Homo sapiens: one gene and its partners. The protein of the gene in region 4 purifies or fractionates together with the protein of the main gene of each other region. This does not show direct contact. Each region holds a gene or a part of one and is shown on either strand. Other genes may lie near its edges. The genes, in order: RAB15, TTC27, CRYBG3, SLC22A11, PCK2, RHOF and HEATR6.

Region 1 (3,500 bases), on a different chromosome or scaffold from region 4:
AATTCATTCATTCAAACTGTTATTGAATGCTTACAATGTGCCAGGAACTAAGCCAGGTACTAGAAGATAAGCTATGAACAGCACAGAAAGATCCTTGTCATCAGAGCTTAATTCTAGTGGGGAAGACAGATGTAAGTAATGAATACCTAATTTCAGAGAGCCATATGTGATAAGAAGCAACTGCGGGATAAAGTAGAGAGTGAGGAGACCCCAAGCACAAGCAACCTTAGACTGGCTGGCCAGAGAAGACATTTTAAAGGAGGTAACATTTGAGCTGAGACCTAAATGACAAGAAGGTGCCAGCAGGGAGATCCAAAGAATCAGGTAGAGGAAGCAGCAAAGATCCTGTGGCAGGACACATTTCAGTCAAACTCACAGTTCCTAGGAAGAGGGTCAACAGTACTCTCTCCTTTGTTACAAAAGGGGAACTGCAGCAAGACCCCTCCCTTCTCTCAGGTCTTGTGTGGACCCTCACATGTGCACCTGCATCTGTACTGTTTACTGCGTGTCTTCTAGCATCTGGTTTAGTTCCTGGAACATAGTCAGCATTCAATAGCACTTACACTTGTCTGGAGGCGTGAACCTGAAGAATACACCAAGAAACTTCTCAAATGCCAGCAAGGCCAACTTCAGAACTCCCTGCTCCTATGTGATGCTGAGATCTCTATACACTGAATAAATGGCATGCGTAAAGCCCACCGTCCCTGTGTAGGTAGTAGGTACATAGTAAGTATATGGAGTAGATAATCAGGATCAGTGTTCCCCTTCCCCACTTTTTTTTTTTTTTTTTTTTTTTTTTTGAGACAGGGTCTCACTCTGTCACCCAGGCTGGAGTACAGTGGTACGATCTCGGCTCACTGCAACCTCCACCTCCTGTGTTAAAGTGATTCTCCTGCCTCAGGCTCCCAAGTTAGCTGGGACTACAGGCGTGCTCTACCACACCCAGCTAATTTTTGTATTTTTAGTAGAGACGGGGTTTCACCATGTTGACCAGGCTGGGTCTTCCCCTTGCTTTTCCCACTGCCTTGTGCACAGACCTCCCTAGAGCCTTGGTGACATGTGCAGTGTGCTCCAGCCACCCCATCTCGCTCCCCATTGGCAGCCCCTGGAACTGGGTCTCGCCTCCCTAAGCCTGCTACTTAGGCCAGCGGGCACCACAGAGGCAGCCAAGACCCACCAGGCTACTGACCACTCACTCCTCCAGCCTCCTTCTCAGGCAGGGCTGTGCTGACTGGTAGCAAAAGGTTCAGGGAAGAAAAGACTAGGACATAGAAACTCAGGAGCAAACATCTTAGAAAGAAGGGGGCTTCCAGATGCACCTGCCCTCACCCAGAGCCAGCAAAGCAATCTCCTGGCAAGGGGCTTCTTGAACTTCAGCTGGTGTGACCATGGTGTGGCCACTCCAGCTGGCCCCAGCAAGGCTGAAGAGTAGCAGCCCCACTGGAGGTGTTCTCCACAGCACCTCCTACAGGGAAGAGGATGTGTGCTTCCCCCACACCCAGGGCCCCTGGAGAATCCTGCCTAGTCTTCAAGACTCCACTCAAATGTCACTTCCTCTTCAAAGCCTTCACCAGCCTCCCCGGGAGGGATTTCTCACTCCTCTGTGATTCCAAAGCATCCTGACATTTCTTTTGCATAATATTCTGCTTGTTTGGATGTCTGGTTCCCAGCTACACTGTAAGCTCCCAGAGGGCAAAGCAGCATCCTGTTCACTTCAGACTCTCACTGCCTGGCAGCAGGTAGATCACTAAATATTATTCAACAAAGTAGAGTAAATGAAAGCAAAAATGAATGAGCAAGTGAGACGAATAAATGGATGAATGAAGTCAGTACATATCTAGAGAAAAGATGGGCAAAGAGAAAATTTTAATCAGGGAAGAGCAATTAGAAAATAACCCACTTTTAGGCCGGGCGTGGTGGCTCATGCCCGTAATCCCAGCACTTTGGGAGGCCGAGGTGGGCGGATCACGAGGTCAGGAGATGGAGACCATCCTGGCCAACATGGTGAAACCCCTTCTGTACTAAAATACAAAAACTTAGCCCAGCGTGGTGGTGCGTGCCTGTAGTCCCAGCTACTCTGGAGGCTGAGGCAGGGAAATCACTTGAACCTGGGAGGCAGAGGTGGCAGTGTGCTGAGATCTCCACTGCAATCCAGCCTGGTGACAGAGCAAGACTCTGTTTCAAAAAAAAAAAAGAAAAAAAGAAAAAAGAAAGAAAAGAAAACAAACCACTTTTTTTTGTTTTTATTTTTGTTTTTGAGATGGAGTCTTGCTCTGTCGCCCAGGCTGGAGTGCAGTGGTGCGATCTCAGCTTGTGGCAACCTCCACCTCCTGGGTTCAAGCAATTCTCCTGCCTCAGCCTCCCGAGTAGCTAGGATTACAGGCACCTGCCACAACACCCGGCTAATTTTTTGTATTTTTAGTAGAGATGAGGTTTCACTATGTTGGCCGGGCTGGTCTCAAACTCCTGACCTTGTGATCTGCCCACCTTGGCCTCCCAAAGTGCTGGGATTACAGGCGTGAGCCACCGCACCCAGCCATAACCCACATTTCAAAGCCAACTGTTAGCCCTTTCTATAGTTCATGGTGCCATGGTCACAGAGTTCTCAGTAATTTTTTTTTTTTCCTGAGACAGGGTCTCACTCTGTCACCCAGGCTGGAGTACAGTGGTGTGATCACAGCTCACTGTGGCCTCCAACTCTTGGGCTCAAGCAATCCTTCCACTTCAGCCTCCTGAGTAGTTAGGACTACAGGCACATGCCACCATAATCAGTTAATTTAAAAAGTGTTTTTGTTTTGTTTTCTTTTCTTTTCTTTTTGTTTTTTTAAGAGATGGGGTCGGCCAGCCATGGTGGCTCACTCCTGTAATCCCAGCACTTTGGGAGGCCGAGGTGGGTGGATCAGCTGAGGTCAGAAGTTCGAGACCAGCCTGGCCAACATGGTGAAACCCCATCTCTACTAAAAACACAAAAAATTAGCCAGGTGTGGTGGTGCATGCTTGTAATCCCAGCTACTCAGGAGGCTGAGGCAGAAGAATCGCTTGAACCCGGGAGACAGAAGTTGCAGTGAGCCGAGATCGAGCCATTTGCACTCCAGCCTGGGCGACAGAGCTAGACTTCATCTCAAAAAAATAAAATAAAATAAAACAGGGCTGGTGATTAGCCCCTTCCTCCTCAGTGGGAGGAATTACGTGTCCAGGAAGCCCTGTGTTCCCCTTGACAAAGCTCACTGACCAGAGAGAAGAGCCAAGGAGAGGGCAGAGGCCTATACAGAAAACTGGCAGTTTCACAGGGAAACTGGTGCAAAGATTGGATTACAGAAGAAGGCACTCTGAGAAGAGCTGGCAATCAGGGTAGAAGGATAATGGCCAAATATCAGCTTTCATGTTATAAAGCTCATCACCAGCCTGTCTGGGGAGCGGGGAGAAGGAAGGAGGAGGAGGAAGGAACAGAAACCAGGGAGTGCAGGTAGGCGGGAGGAACCGGTGCTCCCAGCTGTGGG
Region 2 (4,117 bases), on a different chromosome or scaffold from region 4:
TTTTTACATAGATTACTTGGTACACCATGAGTCTTGAGTAAAATATAAGGCAAGGTTTCTCAACTGCTAAAATCAGGGCCTTACCCTGTCAAGGTGCTATTAAATGTATTTGCTCTGTTCCTCTATGAAAATTTCAAATAAAATTCTACCTTTCCGTTGTGTCCAAATCTGTTGAGTAATCCAGGAATGTTACTACCTGCTTCTCCAGGTAGCTATCAATCTTTTCTTCAGCGGTTGTTGTTGAATTAAAAATATTTTGAGTCATTGAATTTAAGAATATGGCTTCATAGTTCCCTTCCAGTAGCAATTGTAGGAAAGATCCACTCTCTGTAATATAAAAAATTAGTGCGGTAATCCAAAAAAAATTATTTTTCATACCGTAAAGGATAACACTATTAGGTAAATCTACCATTTTAGTGTGCAAAAACAATCTATAGACTTAGAATGATTACTGTATGTCAGTCACAAGGCACTCAGTAAATTTCCATCATTCTACAAACATTCTCTCTCCTAGAATTAGCAGCTCACTCATACTGACTATGAGCCCCAAAGTGGAAGTCAGCCCCAGAAATAATATTCCTCATTAATAGGTATTTAGTCTTTTGCTGGGAAATTCACAAAGATTCCTACTGACAATACAAAAGTTTCCTTAGTCAAGGTTCTAAAACTTTTCACAATCTGGTTCTTTCTACCTCCATTATTTTCTCTTCTTGAAAAGTCACTCCAAGAGCGCTGGTTTACTCATTGTTTCCCTAATGTCCCATGCGTATTCCTGCCTCCACACTTTGCACTTGTGATATCGCCTGTTGAACTCTTCTCCACTTGTTAGTCTTACCCTTTAATCCAAAATCAGCTCAAGTCTAACTTCTTCTAGGAAAGTTTTCCAGGCCACCAAAGTTCAAACTTCCTGTCACTGGAAGCACCTACTGTGTCACACAAGTGCCCACACACACACACATACACACAGAGTACTTACACACTACACTGTTCATTATTACTCTTTTGGGTCCAGCCTAAATCCCACAACCAGATGTGCCAGTGCATGTGCCTTTTAACTCTTTATCTCTCTGGTAAATATTCATTGCTCACAAGAATTAATCTTTGCCTCCTAGGCTGGGCGCGGTGGCTCATGCCTGTAATCCCAGCACTTTGGGAGGCCGAGGTGGGTGGATCACGACGTCAGGAGATCGAGACCATCCTGGCTAACACGGTGAAACCCCGTCTCTACTAAAAATACAAAAAAAAAAATTAGCTGGTCGTGGTGGCAGGCGCCTTTAGTCCCAGCTACTCGGGAGGCTGAGGCAGGAGAATGGCGTGAACCCGGGAGGTGGAGCTTGCAGTGAGCCGAGATCGCGCCACTGCACTCCAGCCTAGGCGACAGAGCGAGACTCTGTCTCAAAAAAATAAAAAAAATAAATCATTGCCGCCTAGGCCGTGCATGGTGGCTCATGGCTGTAATCCCAGCACTTTGGGAGGCCGAGGCGGGTGGATCACCTGAGGTCAGGAGTTCCAGACCAGCCTGACCAACATGATGAAAGCCGTCTCTACTAAAAACACAAAATTAGCCGGGCATGGTGGTGCATGCCTGTAGTCCCAGCTACTTTGGAGGCTGAAGCAGGAGAATCGCTTGAACCGGGGAAGCGGAGGTTGCAGTGAGCCGAGATGGCACCAGTGCACTCCAGCCAGAGCAACAAGAGGGAGACTCCATCCCCCCAAAAAAACAACTTTGCTGCCTCATTTTAGCTCCTCTGCTTACCAACAGTGTGACCTTAAATAAATTACTTAACCAGACCCGGGCGCGGTGGCTCAGGCCTGTAATCCCAGCACTTTGGGAGGCTGAGGCAGGCGAATCATCTGAGGTCAGGAGTTCCAGACCAGCTAGGCCAACATGGTGAAACCTCGACTCTACTAAAAATACAAAATTAGCCGGGCGTGGTGGCGCATGCCTGTAATCCCAGCTACCCTGGAGGCTGAGGCAGGAGAATCACTTGAACCCGGGAGGCGGAGGTTGCAGCGAGCCGAGATCGCGCCATTGCACTCCAGCCTGGGCAAAAAGCAAAACTCCGTCTCAATAAATAAATAAATAAATAAATAAATAAATAAATAAATAGATAAAATAAAATTACTTAACCCAACTGTATTTACAGATCTTCACCGCAAAATGGGATTAAAAATTGAATCTACCTTAAGTATCTACTATAAGCATTAAATGACTGAGTACATGTTAAGGGCTTAGAAAAATAACTGACATTGCCATTGTCATTATTACTGAACCTGGGCGGTAAGAAGTTTTGCGCAAAGAAAGTGAGGACCACGCCCACCATGTCAAAGACTAAACGACCCAAAGCCTCAAGGAATCAGCTAGACTGTGTTAGGGAAAAATGAAGGGAGGGATGAGAATCAGTCGCTGCCATCCCTTTTCCTCACAGTTCCCACGATAGCCTAAGGCCCGGTAGGTGCGCCTCTCACCTGAACCGACGACCCCCTCCTGTTTCCATTGCTGCCGCTCAGCCTCAGTGGGGAATCCCCTCAGAATTGCCAGCTCCGGGGTCCACATCACCCCAGACACCGCTGCAGCCAAAACAGGCTCCCACGAGGGCCACACGGGAGTCAACAAAAGAAAGTGAAAACAGGAGAGTCCAAAGGCGCTGAAATCTAGTGGCGACAGTTACCGTAAATACACCTGCGGCCCTAGAATTCCATGTGCGGATACTACCTCAAGGAGGCGGCCATAACAGCAGCGCGGGGCACCCTGGGAAAAACACGCACGCTCTCTGGTCTGGCTTCCGCCTAGGAGAAGAACCCGAGCTTGAGTAAGGAGCCTGTTGGGTGGTTATGCCCCACCCCGGGGCGGGCAATAGGGGGAGTTGAGGGCGCGGTCGCGCTCAGCCCCGCCCCCAGTGGGACCGCTTCCAAGAACTGTGAACGTGGAAGTGAGTGTGCCTCCCACCGAGGGCTAGGGTTCAAATGCAACTCAAAACGGACGTCTTGGCCAAAGCAGTTTGATTAGAAGGGCTAGAGTTGTGATTCTTAAAGCATTTTGGGTTAGAACGCTCTCGACAACCCGATGAAAACCACAGTCCTTCGCGCAGAGTGCAGGTGGGCCCTTGCTCTCAGCCTAAGGGTACCCTCTCAGGGAATCACAGACCCTCTGACGTGGAGTCGGTGAAGCCCAGGTTGGAACCCCGTCAGCATAGCATGGGTCTTTCGGCGAATGAGCGTGTAAGGAAAGGATCTGGTTTTGACACTGCTCTACATGAATCATGGCCGGGTGGGAAATCTGCCCCTGCCGCTGGTGCAGGGAAGTTTTTGGAACACTGTCGGAACGCTGTAGAAGAGTGATCCCAGGGGTGATCACAAAGAAATTGCAAGGAGACAAACCAGCCTCCGCTGGTACCTTATTTGCACTTCTTTGAATCTTCCTAGCAGCACTCCAAAGAAACAGTTAGAGGGCGGGCGCGGTAGCTCACGCCTGTAATCTCAGCACTTTGGGAGGATGAAGCGGATGGATCACCTGAGGTCAGGAGTTCGAGACCAGCCTGGCCAATATGGTGAAACCCGTCTCTACTAAAAATACAAAAATTAGCCGGACGTAGTGGGGCACCCCTGTAAACCCAGCTACTCGGGACGGTGAGGCGGGGGAATTGCTTGAACCCGGGAGGCGGAGGTTTCAGTGAGCTGAGATGGTGCCACTGCACTCCAGCCTGGGCAATAGGAAAGAGGGAGGGAGGGAGGGAAGAAGGAAGGAAGGGAGGGAGGGAGGGAAGGAGGGAAGGAAAACAGGACTATGGCTTTGTCCCATTGGCTTGACACCTGTACTGAGATATGTCATGTAAGAGCCAGGAGAAAACTGCAGGGTAACTCTGACCACAAGAGCAAAAGCTCTCTGAAAAGAGGCTGACCCGGTACCCAGCTCCAAGGAAGAAGCTAAATAAATGTTAATTCACTTTCTTACTCAGTAAAGAGCCACTCCAGAATGTGAAGGGAGAGGAACTCAGCTCAGCTCATTTCAGCCATTGCCATCAGATACCAAAGGAAGCCGGACCTGACTGTGATTGGAGAAGAGCGGATGCCCTAAAATGTCCTCCCACTGAGAAGTAATTAAAAACTGTTTTTC
Region 3 (3,500 bases), on a different chromosome or scaffold from region 4:
TTACTTTTAAGAAGAGCAGGAGGAGAGCCTAAGGCATCTACCTCTGGTTCTGGCTTATCTTCATATTTGGAGGCAGCAGGAGAAAGCTCAGCTTGGCAATTCTCTTTAAGGCCAGCATCTGAACATTTCTCTCCTATCTCATTATGATTAATTGATTGAAAACGTTTGCCCTGTTCAACTTCTAGAAAGGTTAATTCTGACAAAATAGGCTTTTCTGGAACATGGGTAATTTTCAATGGAAAAGAAGACATTTTATCCTGAGAAATGTTTCTGGGCTCCACTTTTGAAAGAGATACCTTGGACAAGGATATAGTTTTTCCTCTTCCAGAATGTGACTCCACAAGAACATTGTTCTGACCATCAATTTCAGCTTTTGATACAATGTTAGCAGTTTTGGCTTCCAAGGAAAGAGAATCAGACTTCTCTATTATGCTCATATTTGCTTTAGTGTTTGAAGACACTAACTCTACTCTATTAGGGTCTTGAGATAAAATGGAACTGCAATCCTTAGAGAGGTTTCCAGAGTCAAAGCTCAATAGCTCCAACCCAGTTAAGTGAGGGCCACTGGCTTCAGAACCTGGAAGAACCTGGCATTTTTCACTATTAGAAAGAACTTCTTTGAATTCAAAAATTGCAGATGTATATTCAAGGCAAAAGGAAGGAGGAGGACTCTTCCTGCCTGCAGCCTCAACATGGTTTTTCACATTTTCTTCTTTACACTTCCTAGGCTGATAGGAAATACCAACAATGTTGACATTCCCAGTTTCAATGGGCACAGGAGAACCCTCATTCATTAAATCAGGAATATCCAACTTGCTCAGCATCCCAACTCCAGAAACAAAGGTAGGAGGTGAAATACTGAAATTTAGTTTTTTACAGTCAAGGCTAAGAGATGTTTTAGCATCAGGTGATACTTCAGCTTGTTGAGGACTCTCAGAGTCAAGAGGAGTTTCTGAAATGTGACTTCTATTAAGTTCAAATTTCAACTCAGGTGCATTTTCATTTCCTAAGCTTGCTACAACTGCTGATTCACTGATGTAATTTAAAGAGGCCAGGTCTTTTTTATTCATTCTAATATGAGGAATTTTATCATGTGACCTAAAATCAAGCTTTTTGGCTTTGGTTTCAAAGTATTGGTCAGTATCTTTGGGTAATGACTCAATTTTATCTTCTGGAGCTTTTACATGACTTGAAGCTATGGATTCACCAGCTGAGGCACTTTCTGTTTCTCGCCTGATTTCTCTAACAGCCACATTTTTCTGTGAGTCTTGGGCAGACAATCTCTTTCCTTCATTTACAAATTCTGTGTCTGTCACAGCATGTCTCTGAAGAGCAATGATATTGGTGTGAGTGGCAGCTTGCTTTGATGAGCTATCTATGGTTTGCTTGTCAGAACACTCACTCTCTGGCAACTGCAGATGTTCATGCCTAATTGATTTATTTGGACTTGGCAAATTTGTACTTTCCTGCTCAGTAGTGTCACTCCCATCAGATTTACTACAAGAGAAATCAGAAATAGCAGGGCCCTGAGGCTCAACAAGCTCCTCTCTTTGCACCAATGTCCTATTACTCATCACAGTGCTGTTTTCTTTTATCGTATTTTCTGTTGTAGTTACTCTCTGAAAATCTGGGCTGCAAGGGACTTTGCGATGGTTACTTCCTGTTAACAATGCTGAACATACCAAATTTCTGTTAGTCTGAGAAACCGGTTCACAACTTAAATGGTGCTGTGAGTCAGATTCTCCATCGTAGCTGGAGTTAGTCACAGAAGAAGGGGATGACCTATTTCTCTCAATACTCCCCCAAGCATTTTTATTTAAAAGATTATTGGAAGAGGCAATATTCTGCAGTTCTGGGTTATTTGTCAAAGAATTTTCCTTGTTGAAACTTGTTTTGCTACAATCAGAGTCTTCTAATGGGCCTTCAAGTAGATTTCCTTTCATAGATGAGTCTGTACTAGCTGATAACAACAGTGGCAGTACCCCAGCCTCAATCTCACTTCCAGGGTCAATGTGTCTGTTTGTACTAGAGTCAGAACTTTCATTTTCTCTGTCCAAGGTATTCACAGTTGCCAAGCCTGTCTGTTGCTTTAAATATTTCCCAATGTGTCTTGGGCCTCGATATGTTGCATATGTTACTGAAGGCTTCTCTGGTTTACCATCGATTTGTCTGTAAAAAGAAAGCATGAGAGTATCAGGAAATATAATTAATAATACTTAATACTAATCCCAGCAACTGTGGTAAAAGTACATCTTTTAAACACCACTTCCCTTAATATGTACCAATTTGGGGAGTAAATCCTAGAACGCTTTAAATTTACCTTTATTAAAAATAATAAAAATTTAACAAGTAGCACCTGAATGTCAATGCAGCATGAAGAATGTTTGACCTCCTTAGAATTACTCCTTCTTACCTGATTACATACATACCTCTGACTGTGGTTAACAGAATATGAGTCCAAGCCTTGGGTCCTAGTTCTAATCTCAAAGGAGTGTCTGACTCTAAGTAACCAGCTTGACTTTGGGCCTCATATTACTACGAGTTTAGGGATACATCACTGACTTCTCCACCACATTAAAGCATCATAATGACCTTCTATTCCTTTACTCTTACATGTGAATTTGAACAGCAATGTTTAGCACGTAACTTGGAAACGTTTTAAATGAAAACAGATGGCAAAATGTCTAGCCCACAGTAAACACTCAGTATGTATTTGTTAACTCAATAAATGACAAAACTGCATTAAAATTCTCTGTGTTCAGTTCTTCAAATATTCATTTAGTATAGTATTAAACTGCTTGGGCAAATGCAAAAATCAAAAAAGATGTCTAGAGTAAGTATAGAAATCTAACCACAGTATAAAGATCCTGATGCTCTCAGCACCCAATTTCCTTTGGAGAATCTACCACTACGAGTTCTCACATCACGCCATACTATCTTATAGCCAATTACACACATCATTCTCTGCCCTTTAATGCCAGCATCAGAAGGAAACTCTAATGCCCTCTAAGACTCAGCACACAAATAATTTCCACTGCAAACCTATCCCTCTACTACTAAGATGGACAGTTAGTCTTTGATCTCTGGGTGCACAGAGCACAACATTTGTCACATTAAATCATAAAGATCTATGCACTTATTTATTTTCCCCACTAGCCTGGTGGCTATTTGAGGGAAGGTACTGTGTCCTAATCATCTTTCTGTTTTTAAGTGCCCCACACAAGATTTGGCAAGTTGTATATGCTTAATACCTTCTCATGAATTAATGAATAAGTAAAGGAATGATACTTACTGCTAAGTAATCTATTTCAAAAGAATGTCTTAATTCTTATATGTGATAATCAAAATGTTTTACATTTTGAACTCTAATTACCTTTCAATTTCCTGACTATAAAAAATAGCATGCACTCATATGTTCATCACAGCACTATCCACAATAGCAAAAACATGAAATCAACCTAGATGTCCATCAATGGTAGATTGGATAAAGAAAATGTGGT
Region 4 (3,500 bases):
GCCCAGATGACCTTGGGTCCCGGGGAGGGCCAGGGTCTGGTCGCGCGGGCCCTGGCAGTGACAGTGCCGGTAAGCCAAGTGTTAGCTCAGCCCGGTTCCAATGCAGGCTCTATTATTTTGGGCTTGTTCCTTACCCCTCTGGGATCCTCTTTCCCCATCAGTGAAGTGGGGTTGCATGGAGGGGTCAGCGAATGCAGGTTCACCCTCTAGGAGCATGGCCATGGTCTCTAGGAAAGTGGTAAGTCTCTAACGATGACACACAGTGGTACTCCTCGGCCGTGGCTGGTCCCCTGGCTCTAGGGACCCTGGCTCTGCCTCTGTCTTGGGACCTCCCTGGGACCCTGGGACCCCCAGCCTAGAGCTGCCTTTTCCTCTGGCTTCCTGCAGATGGCAGCCTCCAGATCCCACCTGTGCATAGTCCCTCTCTGCTGCCTGCCAGGACTCCTGCCTGCTGGGGCTGTCTGCGTCCTGTCCCAGACAGAAATGCACCCCCTTGAGGCCTGCGGGTGCTGTTTCCCCTGGACGCTCTGCCTCCTGCCTGTCCCAGCTCTGCCTCCTGCCTGTCCCAGCCCTGCCTTGGGGAGGGACACCAGGACGGCGTACTTCACCACCAGCATGGCGCAGCTCCTCCAGCGGAGCACGGGCACGCAGAACAGGTCCAGCACCGACCGCGGCTCCTTTGCAGAGGCCACCTCCTCCTTCACGCTGGACATCAGCACCTTCCGGGGAGAATGGGGGCACCGTGAATGGTAGGGCAATGGCCCTGCCCCACCCCCTGTGCCAGAGAACAGTGTCCAAGTGGCCAGAGTGACGGGGAGCCTGTCCTGGGCCTCGGCCTCTGGAAGCTGGATCCCTAGGGGAAGGGGAGGGGATGGGGCAGAAAAGGTTCTCTCCAGGCCCTGGCTCTTCTGCAGGTTTGACTCAGCCCTGGTCCTCTCAGCTCTAGCTTGCCTCCTTCTGGAAGCCTTCCCTTATCCTCCGACCCCATCTTCACTCTAATCTCTGGCAGCGCCTGTTTCCTGAAAGCAGCTACCTTCAAATAAACACATTCTGTTTCCCCAGACACATCGAGAACCCCCATGAGGTGGGTGCGTGCTACATGCAGGTGGAGGTGGTGGGTGATGGAGGTGACGGTGTGGGTGCTGTTGATAATGATGGTGCTGTTACCGATGGTGACGATGGTGGTGAAGGTGGTGGAGATGTTTTGCAGAGATGGTGGCTGTGGGGTTAGTGATGGTATTGGTGGTGCTGGTGGTGATGGAGTGATGGCAGTGAAGGTGATGGTGGGTGTGGACAGTGGTGGTGCTGTTGGTGATGGTATCGGGATTGGTGGTGGTGGTGGTGGTGTCTGTGTGGAGGTGGTGATGGAGGTGTTGGTGGTGTCTGTGGAGATGCTGGTGGTGGTGCTGGTGGAGGTGGTGCTGGAGTGGGTGGTGCTGTTGGAGGCCACACGGATGATCCCTCAGTGCACGTCCTGTCCCAGGTCAAGTCTCGCAGACAGCAGCATCTCACCTCTATGGTCAGGTTCTTGGCCTCCTTGTGGCCATTTATCCTGGCCACCTTTCTGAGCTCCTGAAGTGCTTGGTCTGGTTTGCCCTTAATAATCAGCCACCGGGCGGATTCTGGCAGCCACCTGTAAGGAGGCAGGTGTGTAGCTGGGAGTGCACGCTGGGCTCTCCCCCGGGGCGGGGTGGAAAGGGGCAGTGGGCACGGACCCTCCAGCTGAGATGAGTGATGAGGAAGCACATGCTTCTGTGCCGCTGCTGCCCAGCCAGGAGCCTGGCAGTCCCCAGCGGTTTCAGAATAAAGCTGAGTCCCAATGCCTGGCCGCCCACCTTCCCAAGCGAGCCACCTCCATCTGGCTCGCCTGGCTGCCCGGGGCCTGCCCACCTGAGCCCTGCACACAGCCAGGGCACAGGTGGCCTGGGCATGGGTGTCCCTAGAGTTGGCTGCTTCACCAGTGATTCTGGGGCTATTTCTAGGATAGAAAGGTCACTTGGTGCTGGGTTTTTTTGTTTTTTTTTTGAGATGGAGTCTCACTCTGTCACCCAGGCTGGAGTGTAGTGGTGCGATCTTGGCTCACTGCAACCTCCACCTCCCAGGTTCAAGTGATTCTCCTGCCTCAGCCTCCTGAGTAGCAGGGTCTACAGGTGTGCACCACCATGGCTAATTTTTTTGTATTTTTAGTAGAGATGGGGTTTCACCATGTTAGCCAGGATGGTCTTGATCTTCTGACCTTGTGATCCACCTGCCTCAGCCTCCAAAGTGCTGGGATTACAGGCTTGAGCCACTGTGCCCGGCCTTTTTTTTTTTTTTTTTTTTTTTTTTTTAGCACATTTAAAATATCCCCAGGCAGAACCAGGTGATTTTATAAAACCAGTCTATTTCTCCCCAACCTCAGGGGCAGGTGGGCCAGGAGAAACACTTTCCTGGTGGAAGGCACAGGATCTGCCCAACCCACCGGCTCTCAGCCCTGTTTGCAGGGAAGCTAAGAAGGACTTCTGGAGGCAGTCTGACGTAGTGGTGAAGAGTTAGCCTGCCTAGGTTCAAATCCTGCCTCTGGCATTCACCGGCTGTGTGTGACCTTGGGTGAGTGACCTAACCTTTCTAGGTCTCGGTCCTTCATTTGAAAATGGTGGTAATCGCATCATCTTACTTATTAGAAGGTGTGTTAATACGCACCTAGTGTTATAAACTGCACCTGGTACACACCTGATCAGCGTGGCGGGGATGGCCTAATTATTGTAATTATGGGATGGCCTTCCTCTTCACTTATTGATCTGTGTATGAAACGTAAGCTCCACGGGGCCACTGGTTTTTGCCTGTTTTGTTCACTTGTGTGTCCCCAGCACCTAAGACCCTCTGCACCTGTCTGTGTCTCCTTCCTCAGTGCCAACCCAAGGAGGGATTTCCAGACCTTAGGGATTTTTGCGGCCCCTAAAATTGTAGTGACAACAATCTATTTTCATATCCAATGTTGGTCCGCACTGTATGTGAAGGAGTGAAGCTGGTGGGTGGGGGCTGGTGCAAGTATTGAGGAAGGACGATGCTCACAGCCTCAGCCCAGGGGACAGCGGCAGTGGGGCCTTGGGGACCGGGAGAGCGGCCGCTTCCACTGTGGCCGAAGTTCAGCCCAGTGCCCCTGGATCTTCCAGTTTTTCCAAAGAAGGTAAAAAATACTGTTTTTGTTTGTTTTTGAAAATCTTCTGATTTTTAAATGTTAGCAACTAGTTACAAATGTATTTTTTAAATCACCATTTGAGCCAATGCTGTGCCAGCCCATCTTGGCCTGTCTGGGCTGGATGGGAGCCACGGACCTCGGGCTGCAACACTTAGCCCAGGACTGCCAATCACCAATGTCCCTCCCTAGCGAGGGTGCCGCTCATGCCATGGCCCTTCTGTGGCACTCCAGGTCTCTGGACCTACTGCCAGCCAGAGAGGTGAAAGTGAAGAGTCCCCCTCCCACCCTGGGTCTCCTAAGGAAAAGGTCCCACATCATA
Region 5 (3,500 bases), on a different chromosome or scaffold from region 4:
GTGGATAGTGCCTTCTCCCAGCAATTCCTATGTCTGTGACCCAGTGCTAGAGCTACCTGTAAAACAGATCTTTGATTGTGCCAGGCTGTGCTTCTTCTAGGGGCTGGAAGAAGATGATTGTGAGACAGGTGTTAGAGGGAAGCCTGTGAAGATAGGTGGGAAATGAAAACAGCACAAATCTTGTGTAAAATAGATAAGCATCTCTTATTATTGGACAGTCTTTGTGGGAAGGTCTATGGCACATTGAAGATGTTAGTTAATATCAAATTGCTCATATTTTCTGCAAGGTGCCTTCCCTATTCCCAGATGAGGGTGCTATGTCCTCTTGCTAGACTAGGGCCTCAGGTCACATTTTGTGCACACGTCTCTCCAGGGCCTCAAGCTCAGCCAACACCTCTTTGGGCAGATCCTGGTTGACCTGCTCTGTCAGGTAGCTCCGAATGTCACGAACCTCCTGTTCCCAGAAGTCCTTGGGGAGGGAGAACAGCTGAGTGGTGTCTATAGCTCTGAGGCCGCTGAGATCCAAGGCTCCTTCCTTTGGCACCAGCCCAATGGGTGTCTCTCGGGCACTGTCCTCCCCCTCTAACCGCCGGCAGATCCAGTCTAGCACCCGAGCATTCTCCCCAAAGCCTGGCCACAGGAAGTGCCCTGCCTCGTCACGCCGGAACCAGTTGACATGGAAGATACGGGGCAGCTGGGCCCCCTTGCGCCCTTCCATGCTCAGCCAGTGTTCCAGGTAGTGCCCGAAGTTGTAGCCAAAAAAGGGCCGCATGGCAAATGGGTCGTGCATGATGATCTTCCCTGGGGGGGAAGCAAGATGGGTAAGGAATCTTCCTTCTCACTGGGGTAGGGAAGGGCACCCTGCATCCAGTTGGAGGAAGCTGTGAAAGGCTTATGGTTCTGAATATCTTCAGGGATGGGGAAAAGATAGAAGTGGGAAGAGGTGGGGCCATATCAGACTCCAGGGGTGGACAAAAGGAAGGTCTGGCTCAGGAAGGGAGAGAGGACGTGCTGTGTGCACACACAGGAGAGGGAGGAATGGTGAGGGTGCTCACCTTTGTGTTCTGCTGCAGCAGTGGACTCAGAGCGCATGGCGCTGCCCACAAACACCCCATGACGCCAGTTGAAGGCCTCGTATACCAGGGGTACCCCTAGATCACCAATGAACAGAGTCACAGGCAGCCCTTTTCTTTGGACCCTAACTCCAGCCCTTCTGGTGAGCTTGACTGGTACTCTCTCTCCTAAGACCTCGGCTATCCCATTTTCAGACCCTTTGCCTCCTCCCAAGTTTGCATTCACCAGGGGAGAACTCTGGAGAAAGGTGAGATCCAGGCTGAGGCTCTGGATCAGAGGGAGGGAGGTAGGCCCTAATACAGAGATAGCCCTTTTGCCAAGAACATGGAGCTCATATGTTGTTTACCTTTGGGTCTGCGGCCACCAAAGATGATGGCGTCAATGGGGACACCCTCTGGGGCCTCCCAGGCTGGGTCCATGATGGGGCACTGGCGAGCCGGGGCACAAAATCGAGAGTTGGGATGTGCACAGGGCTCCTTGTCACCTGGCAGAGGAAATACAAACACTATTATTTCCAAGGTCATGTCGACCCCCAACACACACATACATGGGCACACATTCTTGCAGGGTTCTTTTTTTTTTTTTGCCTCATCAGCTGCCTAGAACCTTGTGTGATAAGGAGCAGAGAGAGGGGAGCCAGGGCATCTCCAAGAGCTCAGGTTGTTTAGCCATGAAGGTGCGGCCAGCTGAGCTATGTGAGAAAAGAGTGGGAGAGGAATTGGGGTTTGGCAGGGCACTAATGTTTGTGCCAAGCTACTGGCACTTGGCACTGACCAGGGCTCAAGGGAATGGGGTTAGATATGGGCATAAGGTTATAATAATTTTTCCCCCAGAAACTATTTCATTATTTGTGAGATTATTATTTAAATGAATACCCAAACCTAAAGCAAAAACTGAGAATGTCAGCTTAGTACTTCAGACAATTGACTTTCCGTCAGCAAACCGGGGAAGACAGGTTCTCCTAAGTTATCCAAATGCAAATAGGAATTTATTTTATCTTTTTATTTTTGAGGCAGAGTCTTGCTCTGTTGCCCAGGCTGTAGTGCAGTGGTGCAATCTTGGCTTACTGCAACCTCCGCCTCCCAGGTTCAAACAATTCTCCTACCTCAGCCTCCCCAGTAGCTGGGATTACAGGCACCCACCACCATGCCTGGCTGATTTTTTTGTATTTTTAATAGAGATGGGGTTTCACCATGTTGGCCAGGCTGGTTTCAAACTCCTGACCTTAACTGATCTGCCCACCTTGGCCTCCCAAAGTAGTAGGATTACAGGCATGAGCCACTGCGCCTGGCCTGATTTTATTTACTTAATTAATTTAGTTATGAGACGGAGTCTCACTCTGTCACCAGGCTGGAGTGCAGTGGCATGATCTTGTCTCACTGCAACCTCTGCCTCCTGGGATCAAGCAATTTTCCTGCCTCCTGAGTAGCTGGGATTACAGGCATGAGCCACCATGCCTGGCTAATTTTTGTATTTTATTGGAGACGGGGTTTTGCCATGTTGCCAGGCTGGTCTCGAACTCCTGACCTCAGGTGATCCAACTGCCTCGGCCTCCCAAAGTGCTGGGATTACAGATGTGAGTCACTGTGCCCTGCAAGGAATTGATTTTAAAGCTAACAACATGTTGGTGATTTCCCTGCCCTGCTTAGACCCTGATGAAGTGATAGGGCTGGAAAAATAGAGATAGGGATATCACATGGGTAGGGATAACCTCAGGAGCCCAGGTCACACTTGGCACCTTCAGGTGTCCTGGAGGGGGGTTGGGACTAAGTCAGTGGCACATGTATGAAGCACCACTGTGTGGCCCCTGAGTGGACATGGTGCCTTCTCTGCTGGAGGTTGCTGGTCAGACCTGGGGAGTGGGGAAGCCACGGGGCCAAAATCCCCACCCTCTCCCATCCGCCAGCTTCTGCCCGCCATTGCAGATAAGAGCCATCCTTCTTCAGCACCCAGTGCAGAATCCTAACACAGGGTATTATTCTGGGAATTGAAGCTGGGGACAAGATGCCCTAGTTATGCCCCCAAATCTGGAGATGATGAAAGGGTTGGGGAACTAGCCTGTGGGGAAAGATGAAAGTTTCTTGGATTTCTCAGTTGGGTGGGAAGGCTGAGGGGGGCTTAATGATGGTGTTAGTAAAAATAAAGGGTGATTAGATGAAGCAAGGAGGGTGACTGCTAGGCCAGCCTGGCAAACCTGAATATAGGCTTCAGTGACTACAAGGCCAGCCTCCCCTCCCATGCTCTTCTTTGCCCCTGCCTCTTGGTGTCTGGACTGCCTGACTGCAGAAGGCCATGGAAAGAATACTGAAGGTCCAGAGTGCAGGGCTGAGGGAGAGGTGGGACTCCCAGGCGCCCAGGGTAATGACAGGATTCAGAAACTAGCTTCTGGGAAAGACTCAAGCACTGACCTGATTTTGTTTGTAGGA
Region 6 (3,500 bases), on a different chromosome or scaffold from region 4:
TCAAAGGAAGGAGTGGTTGAAGAGGGTTAATCGTCATCTCTCTGGCTTTAGGTGCCCTGCAGCCTTGGCAAGGGCATTCCACTTCCTGACCTGTGTTCATTCAAGCAGCCACCCTGGGAGGTGCGCTGGGTGGGGACAGTTCTTCCTGTTAAGAACGCAAGTGGTGGAGGGGGCCTTTGTCAAGGTCAGAGACAAGCACCCTGTGAGCCAGAGGCCAACCAGTCCCCAAGGTCAGCTGCCTGCCAGGCCATTCTAAAAGCACCAGTTCTTCCAGGAAGCTGTCCCCAGCCTTCCCAACCGGGAATTAACCTCTGGGCCTCAGTTTTCTCATCTGTGAAATGGAGATGTGAAAAGTGAGCGAGCCTTGATGACAGTCATAATAAAGATGGTTAATATCGACTCTCTTTCTCTCATATAAAAGTCATGGTCTAGACCGGGCGCTGTGGCGCATGCTTGTAATCCCAGCACTTTGGGAGGCTGAGGCGGGCGGATCGCTTGAGGTCAAGAGTTCAAGACCAGCCTGGGCAACATGGTGAAACGCTGTCTCTACTAAAAATACAAAAATTAGCCGGATGTGGTGGCATATGCCTGTAATCCCAGCTACTTGGGAGGCTGAGGCAGGGGAATCACTTGAGCTGGGGAGGTGGAGCAGAGATTGAACCACTACACTCCAGCCTGGGCAACAGAGTGAGACTCTGCCTCAAAAAAAAAAAAAAAAAAAGGGGGGGGGGGCGGGGTTTGCTCTGTTGCTCAGGCTGGAGTGCAGTGGTGTGATCATAGCTCACTCCAGCCTCAACCTCCTGGGCTCAAGCCATCCTCCTGCCTCAGCCTCCTGAGGAGCTGGGGCCGCAGGTGTGTACCACTGTGTTACATGCCAGGTCTAGCTCAAAGCCCTTCACCTGGATTAACTCATCTTTCCCCCAAAAGCCCTACAAGGTAGACACTATTGTTGGCCCCATTTTACAGGCTGAGAAACGGAAGCACAGAGAGCTGGAGTGACTTGCCCCAGGCCACACAGCTAAGGGGAAGCTTTGTAAATAACAGAGGACCTTACTGGAGTATTTTTTTTTCTTAGCCTACCCCAGAAAACAGGAAGGAATCCTCACCCTACTTGTCCCAGCCCTGACCAGGTGAGGAAAAATGTCAGCCCTCTCAAGAAAGAGGGCCTCTGGAAAGGGAGAGGCAGCCAGCTCCGACTCCAGCACCTCCTCCAGGTTGCCTTCCTGGCTTGACTCTGCCCAACCCAGCTTTCCCTAGAATTCAGTGTGGGCCTTTGGGGCGTGGGGGTGGTGGGGGGACCAGGCCTGCAGAGGACTACTTCCGTGTGCACCAACCCCATGCCCACTTGGGGATGGGGGAGCGTACTATTAATAAATACCTTCTCTCATATGAGTCAGGAGGGTCAGGTTCCATTCACTCATGCACATTCTGGGCAGGACTGTTCAGGGCAGCCTCCACATCTCGAATTGACGCCCACATTTCCCTCTCTGGGTGTCAATTTCCTTATCTGGGAGAGGGGGTGATAACAGTGATAACCCTCCCCCTAATCTGGAAGGTGAAAGCCCAGGAGAAGGGAGGCAATGCTTAGAGCGGGAGCAGTGCAGGGGCAGGGGTGGAGTGGGGGGCAGTGCCGGGAGGCAGGAGGACTGCTATTGTGGTTACTGTTGAAACTTCCAGGAGAAGTTAATAGCCTGGCATGGTGGGTGGTCAGAACCCCAGAATCTTTGGACCCAGAAGCTTCAGGGGCCTCCCAGCCACCAGGTGATACCATTACCCTCCACATTCTACCTAAAATGATACCAGGGCTGAAAGGGTCCATGTCACCTGCCCGTAGTCACAGAGGGGGCCCATCCAGCCTCTGCAGATGGGCTTAGAGGTTAAAACAGCCCAGGTAGACCAGGCGTGGTGGCTCACACCTGTAATCCCAGCACTTTGGGAGGCTGACATGGGAGGATCACTTGAGCCCAAGAGGCTGTGGCTGCAATGAGTTATGATCATGCTATGGCACTCCAGCCTGGGTGACAGAGCGAGACCCTGTCTCTAACCATTCCCCACCTCAAAAAAAAACCCAGGAATTACATGCAAAGGATGCACGTGCTTCTGGTGAGGAAGTCTCTAGGCCTGGGCTCCCCCTAGAGCCGCCCATCGTCCTGACGTGCACTCAGGCGGTGCGGCAGGGCTGGGCGGAAGGGAGGCTCATGCCGCACACAGGGCTATTTTCTTGGTGGGATGAGGCTTTGCCAAGGAAGTCCTGCTTCCAGGGACAGGGGTCTCTAAGGCCCAGAGCAGAGTTGAGGAAAAAAGACCTCAAATCTGCAGGAGGACACACAGGGCGGGTGGACCCCAGCTCCAGCTGCGGCGTTGGTCAGGGAGGGGTACTGGCAGCATGAGAAGTGAAGCTGCCAGAAGAGGAACCCACTTTTACTCACTCTGCTGGGGGCCGCCCACCTGTGCTTTCCCAGGGAGACAGGGGCTGGGCAGCCCCAGCTGGGAGTTGAGACCACCTTCTGGGTGACCCCAGCCTTGTCTCAGCCCAGGCCTCCGGTGCTTCTGGGGCTCACAACACACATCTGTCCCTGGTTCCTTGTCTTAGCAAATCCTACTCCATTGCCTAACAATTTTCTTTCTGTTCCCATCTCAGGCTGAAAAGGGGACCACCGCTCCCCGGGCAACCCCTATCCCATCCTGTGCCCCTCTAACCCTGGACCCCACACCTTGGCCCTGATGAGCTCACTCTCCCGTCTGTGTCTTCACAGCCCACCTCACCCCGCCTCCCCCGGCCCAGGAAACTTCAGACTTCACCGCAGCTTCCTGCCTCAGAGGATGTCAGGGCCCCGGTGAGGCCGACAGAGCAGTGAGTGCCATGGCCCCCGCCCCTTCCCTTCTGAGCCCTGCGAGCCCCGTCACCCGATCTGCCCTCCCTCCGCTGTGGTGTCTGTAACTACTTCCTCAGGAGGGAGACAGCCACACGGGCCTTCCACGAGGGCCCCTGTGGGCAGCGTCCGGCCCCTGCCCAGGACCAGCGTTTGGTCCTGGGTGTGGAGAAATTCAGCCTCTGAGAGCCACCCCTGTCTCACAGCTCTGGTGGCCACCAGTCGGGAAGATGCCCCTTCCGCCACTGTGTGTGGCCCATTGGGTTCTAGAACTTTCTACAACTACGTTTACTAGACTCATTTCTGGCTTGGCCATTCCCTCACCCTCTTGGCCTTTGCCTCTCTCTACGTGGCCGCCTGGCCATGGCTTTCTGTCCTGTTCTCCTGAGAGCCGTCCACCTGCAGGCCGAGATGAATCATCTCCGGCATTCGGATCCACTACCCATTCATTCCATCACCTTCCAGGCCTTGCTCCATGACAAGCACTGGGACCTGGGCTCTCCCTGGTGGCACTCACTGACCAGGGGATTTCCTCCTATGAGCAAGCCTTCCCTGGTCACGGGGGGATACCCTACAGGGAGCAGCCAGATCTCTTCTCCCTGGGTGCCCCTCCTTGGGGTCTGTCAG
Region 7 (3,500 bases), on a different chromosome or scaffold from region 4:
GAATGGAAAGAAATGAACTAATGTTCCAAAAGTCAAAAATTTTAGCACAATTTTGGCATCTTAAGGGGAAAATCATGACTATCACAGATGAAAACAAATGTCATTGAAATTGGTTATTTTTTTCCACTAAGTTACAAAATCTATATAGAAATTTGATACTATATCAAATTGTACTTCTCACAGTTCTGAGTTAATTTCCTTTAAACTCTGTTTAACATATCTTTGTTGTTATAATTGTTACTTAAGATACTGAATCTGGTACAAGTTTTGCTTCTTTTGCTCTTATATCAATATTTAATATCTGGTTTACCAGTCCTAATCAGCACTTTCAGCAGAAATTACTAACGTGCAAGTAAATCATAACAGGTGTAGCTCTTCAGAGAGCTCATTTTGTTAAGTTTTCATTGTCTGAATATTTAAAATGATGAATGAAAGGCTTTTCAGTCTTACAGAAGTCAGTGTGCTTGGTTTTACTAGTGTATAGTTTCACCTCCTTGGACATGAAGACTTGTCTAAAGCTAATAAAACAGAAAAGTACTTTTCCTTTTTTGCTACTTAAGAACGTAGCACAAATGTTTGCTGAGGTAGCCTAGTCAATCCTAATTTTTTTCCTCTTTATGTGTGTTTGGTCTCAGAATATTTCTGGAAGGGTGACAAAGAAGTCCCTGCTGGGAGTAGGTACATTGAAGTTTCCATGCAGGGCACATGACTGTTCACATGTTATTTTATTGGATCTCACTTCCAAAGTCAGTTGTCTTTTACGTAACAGCATTTCAACATTGTGTCAGGGACTCTGGGTTGGGAGGTATCTAAGTGATATGGTTTAGCTGTGTCCCCACCCAAATCTCAACTTGAATTATATCTCCCAGCATTCTCACGTGTTGTGGGAGGGACTTGTGAGAGGTAACTGAATCATGGGGGCTGGTCTTCCCCCTGCTATTCTCGTGATAGTCTCACGAGATCTGATGGGTTTATCAGGGGTTTCTGCTTTTGCTTCTTCCTCATTTTCTCTTGCTGCCACCATGTAAAGAAGTGCCTTTTGCCTCCTGCCATGATTCTGAAGCCTCCCCAGCCATGTGGAGCTGTAAGTCCAATTAAACCTCTTTTTCTTCCCAGTCTCGGGTATGTCTTTATCAGAAGCGTCAATACAGATACACTAATTAAAGACTGCCTGTTCTTTGCTAATACACTAAGCAAAGATTGCCTGTTCTTGGCTGGCCATATGAGAGAAAATCTACCATTCCATAACAGTTAACAATTCCAACCTTTTCATTCTCTTTTCTAGTTATACCACTATTATCTAGATTTCGATTTGTTTTCACTTTTTATAGTTATCTGAAACAGCAATAAATCATCATCATGAAATTTGTAAATCAGGATAATTCTCAAGGTACCAAGACAAAGGTTTGCCCTGTAGTTTGTTTCTTAAGACAAGTCTTGATGATATTCTCCATAATATGCGTTTATAACACCTAAGGAAATCATATCCAAGAAATTCTTAAATTAGTCTTGTTATTTTTATTGATAATTTGTTCTGTCCCTTTTGGAAGTGTATAAGATGTGCTCTATGAAGCACATTTCCAACATGGAAATGTGATCATTTCCCAAGTACCACAGCACTGCCAAATCCGAATGGACATTTCTAAGTTTTCTTCTCCCCAATTAACCATTCTAGCATATTATGTTTCAATTTCCTAAAAGTAGCCTCTGTTTATTGTTGGCATTCTGACTGGAAGAGTCTAATCACCTTTCCTTCTGTCCATTTGTCTTTAGAAAATTTCTTAGTACACCAGTTAAAATTGTGCTTCCAGCTGAGTATGCCATGGGTCATATCAGACCTGCCATAAACTCAAAACTAATCACTAAGCACTTCAATGACAAGATAAACTACAGTTGTCTTATTTAATCCTGGCTAAGAGGAACTCCAGCCATCTAACTCTATATGCACAAGGAGCACCTGAGATGACCACTTGGCCTGGAGTCATGGCAGCTCTTTTAACCTGGTCAATCCAGAATGCTGTTCCATTCTAATTACATGATCTGTTATTTTTAATTTTAATGCACATAACTTTCTAGAAGTCTTTATTTTAAAAGCCTGTCCCACTGGGCCGGGTGCGGTGGCTCAAGTCTATAATCCCAGCACTTTGGGAGGCCAAGGCAGGCACATCACCTGGGGTCAGGAATTCCAGACCAGCCTGACCAACATGGAGAAATCCCATCTTTACCAAAAATACAAAATTAGCCAGGCATGGTGGTGCATGCCTGTAGTCCCAGCTCCTCGGGAGGCTGAGACAGAATTGCTTGAACCCGGGAGGCAGAGGTTGCAGTAAGCTGAGATCTCACCATTGCACTCCAGCCTGGGCAACAAGAGCAAAACTCTGTCTCAAACAAACAAACAAACAAACAAACAAAAGCCTGTCCCATGACATCACCTACCACAACACTTTTTTCTAGCATATGTCTTGGTGCACAGTTAATCACACTATGGACAGACTGCAAAGGTATGCTCCAAGCTCTGTTGTAAACAATAATTACCACACTTATTTAAACCCTTCCAAGCTAACACTTGATTAAAAGAATCTCTTAAGTACGATCATTTCACTTGCCATTACACTGAACTAATTTAATTTCTTTCATCTTTTAAAATCCACTTTAAGTAGGATGACTTTTTTTTTTTTTTCTCTAGGATTTTCTTGTGGCTTTTTGTACTGGATCTACAACATCTCCAGAAGGAAGTTCTGTATCTTTTTTCCTCAGCACATCTCTTGCATTCACCAAAGTTAAACAGCAAGAACAAGTCTAAAAGGTACCTAAATCAAGGAGATGGATAAGACCACTTTGCAATAGGTGAAATTTCTCATGGCACTTTAAGTGAAATGTAAACATTTAAAAATATATGAAGATATAAACATCATGAAAATTATTCCAATTCATTTTCATCAGCTATGACCTCATAACCTTTTTGTATTCCTGTTCTAAACCCCCGTGTCCCACATCCCCTTGGCTGGGCAGCTGTGATAAAGGTGATAAAGCTGGGCTGCTTCTTGCTCCACAGCACCATCTCGTTGGCCACTGCTGGCAGCTCCCCTAGCTGGAGGGTCTTCAAATATATATTTTCAATATTTTTAGTAGCTTTTATTTCAATTACTCTAATGGCTTCATTACTGATTTATTTGCCACCACTCATTTTTCCATTTTTCTCCTAGGTTCTCATTCACTATTGATTTAGTTAATTTGTAAAATTTCTGCCAGTTTAATTTCCTAGGATAAGGAGTATTTGAAATACCCCACAAGTCATTTTTTTGCGTGTATATAAAATTGAGGCTAATTTATTTTTCTTTACCTTGTAAAAGCTTCTGATGGGTCATCCAGAAATTTTCTTATATAGTAAGTTACTCAAGGAGATGACTCATATGGAATTCCAACGTATTGTGGGTTACCACCCCTGACCCCTTAAGGAATAATCTTAAAAACAGAAAAGGAACAATATGCTGTTGGCC

What was found.
Region 1: the proteins of SLC22A11 (region 4) and RAB15 purify together in Homo sapiens (affinity purification with mass spectrometry; one large-scale study listed by BioGRID and IntAct). This does not show direct contact.
Region 2: the proteins of SLC22A11 (region 4) and TTC27 purify together in Homo sapiens (affinity purification with mass spectrometry; one large-scale study listed by BioGRID and IntAct). This does not show direct contact.
Region 3: the proteins of SLC22A11 (region 4) and CRYBG3 purify together in Homo sapiens (affinity purification with mass spectrometry; one large-scale study listed by BioGRID and IntAct). This does not show direct contact.
Region 5: the proteins of SLC22A11 (region 4) and PCK2 purify together in Homo sapiens (affinity purification with mass spectrometry; one large-scale study listed by BioGRID and IntAct). This does not show direct contact.
Region 6: the proteins of SLC22A11 (region 4) and RHOF purify together in Homo sapiens (affinity purification with mass spectrometry; one large-scale study listed by BioGRID and IntAct). This does not show direct contact.
Region 7: the proteins of SLC22A11 (region 4) and HEATR6 purify together in Homo sapiens (affinity purification with mass spectrometry; one large-scale study listed by BioGRID and IntAct). This does not show direct contact.

What each region holds. Positions count from the first base shown.
Region 1 is NC_000014.9:64,962,337-64,965,836, forward strand, and holds part of RAB15 (ras-related protein Rab-15), read right to left. Parts: intron 1-3,500. UniProt on the Homo sapiens protein: The small GTPases Rab are key regulators of intracellular membrane trafficking, from the formation of transport vesicles to their fusion with membranes.
Region 2 is NC_000002.12:32,626,733-32,630,849, reverse strand, and holds the start of TTC27 (tetratricopeptide repeat protein 27), read right to left. Parts: upstream 2,801-4,117; 5' UTR 2,558-2,800; coding exon 2,470-2,557; intron 328-2,469; coding exon 150-327; intron 1-149.
Region 3 is NC_000003.12:97,870,511-97,874,010, reverse strand, and holds part of CRYBG3 (very large A-kinase anchor protein), read right to left. Parts: intron 2,170-3,500; coding exon 1-2,169.
Region 4 is NC_000011.10:64,562,441-64,565,940, reverse strand, and holds part of SLC22A11 (solute carrier family 22 member 11), read right to left. Parts: intron 1,634-3,500; coding exon 1,513-1,633; intron 720-1,512; coding exon 604-719; intron 1-603. UniProt on the Homo sapiens protein: Antiporter that mediates the transport of conjugated steroids and other specific organic anions at the basal membrane of syncytiotrophoblast and at the apical membrane of proximal tubule epithelial cells, in exchange for anionic compounds.
Region 5 is NC_000014.9:24,100,811-24,104,310, reverse strand, and holds the end of PCK2 (phosphoenolpyruvate carboxykinase [GTP], mitochondrial isoform 1 precursor), read right to left. Parts: intron 1,559-3,500; coding exon 1,421-1,558; intron 1,152-1,420; coding exon 1,056-1,151; intron 802-1,055; coding exon 347-801; 3' UTR 186-346; downstream 1-185. UniProt on the Homo sapiens protein: Mitochondrial phosphoenolpyruvate carboxykinase that catalyzes the conversion of oxaloacetate (OAA) to phosphoenolpyruvate (PEP), the rate-limiting step in the metabolic pathway that produces glucose from lactate and other precursors derived from the citric acid cycle.
Region 6 is NC_000012.12:121,787,189-121,790,688, forward strand, and holds part of RHOF (rho-related GTP-binding protein RhoF), read right to left. Parts: exon of another isoform or gene 2,967-3,500; intron 1-2,966. UniProt on the Homo sapiens protein: Plasma membrane-associated small GTPase which cycles between an active GTP-bound and an inactive GDP-bound state. Causes the formation of thin, actin-rich surface projections called filopodia.
Region 7 is NC_000017.11:60,061,922-60,065,421, forward strand, and holds part of HEATR6 (HEAT repeat-containing protein 6), read right to left. Parts: intron 1-3,500. UniProt on the Homo sapiens protein: Amplification-dependent oncogene.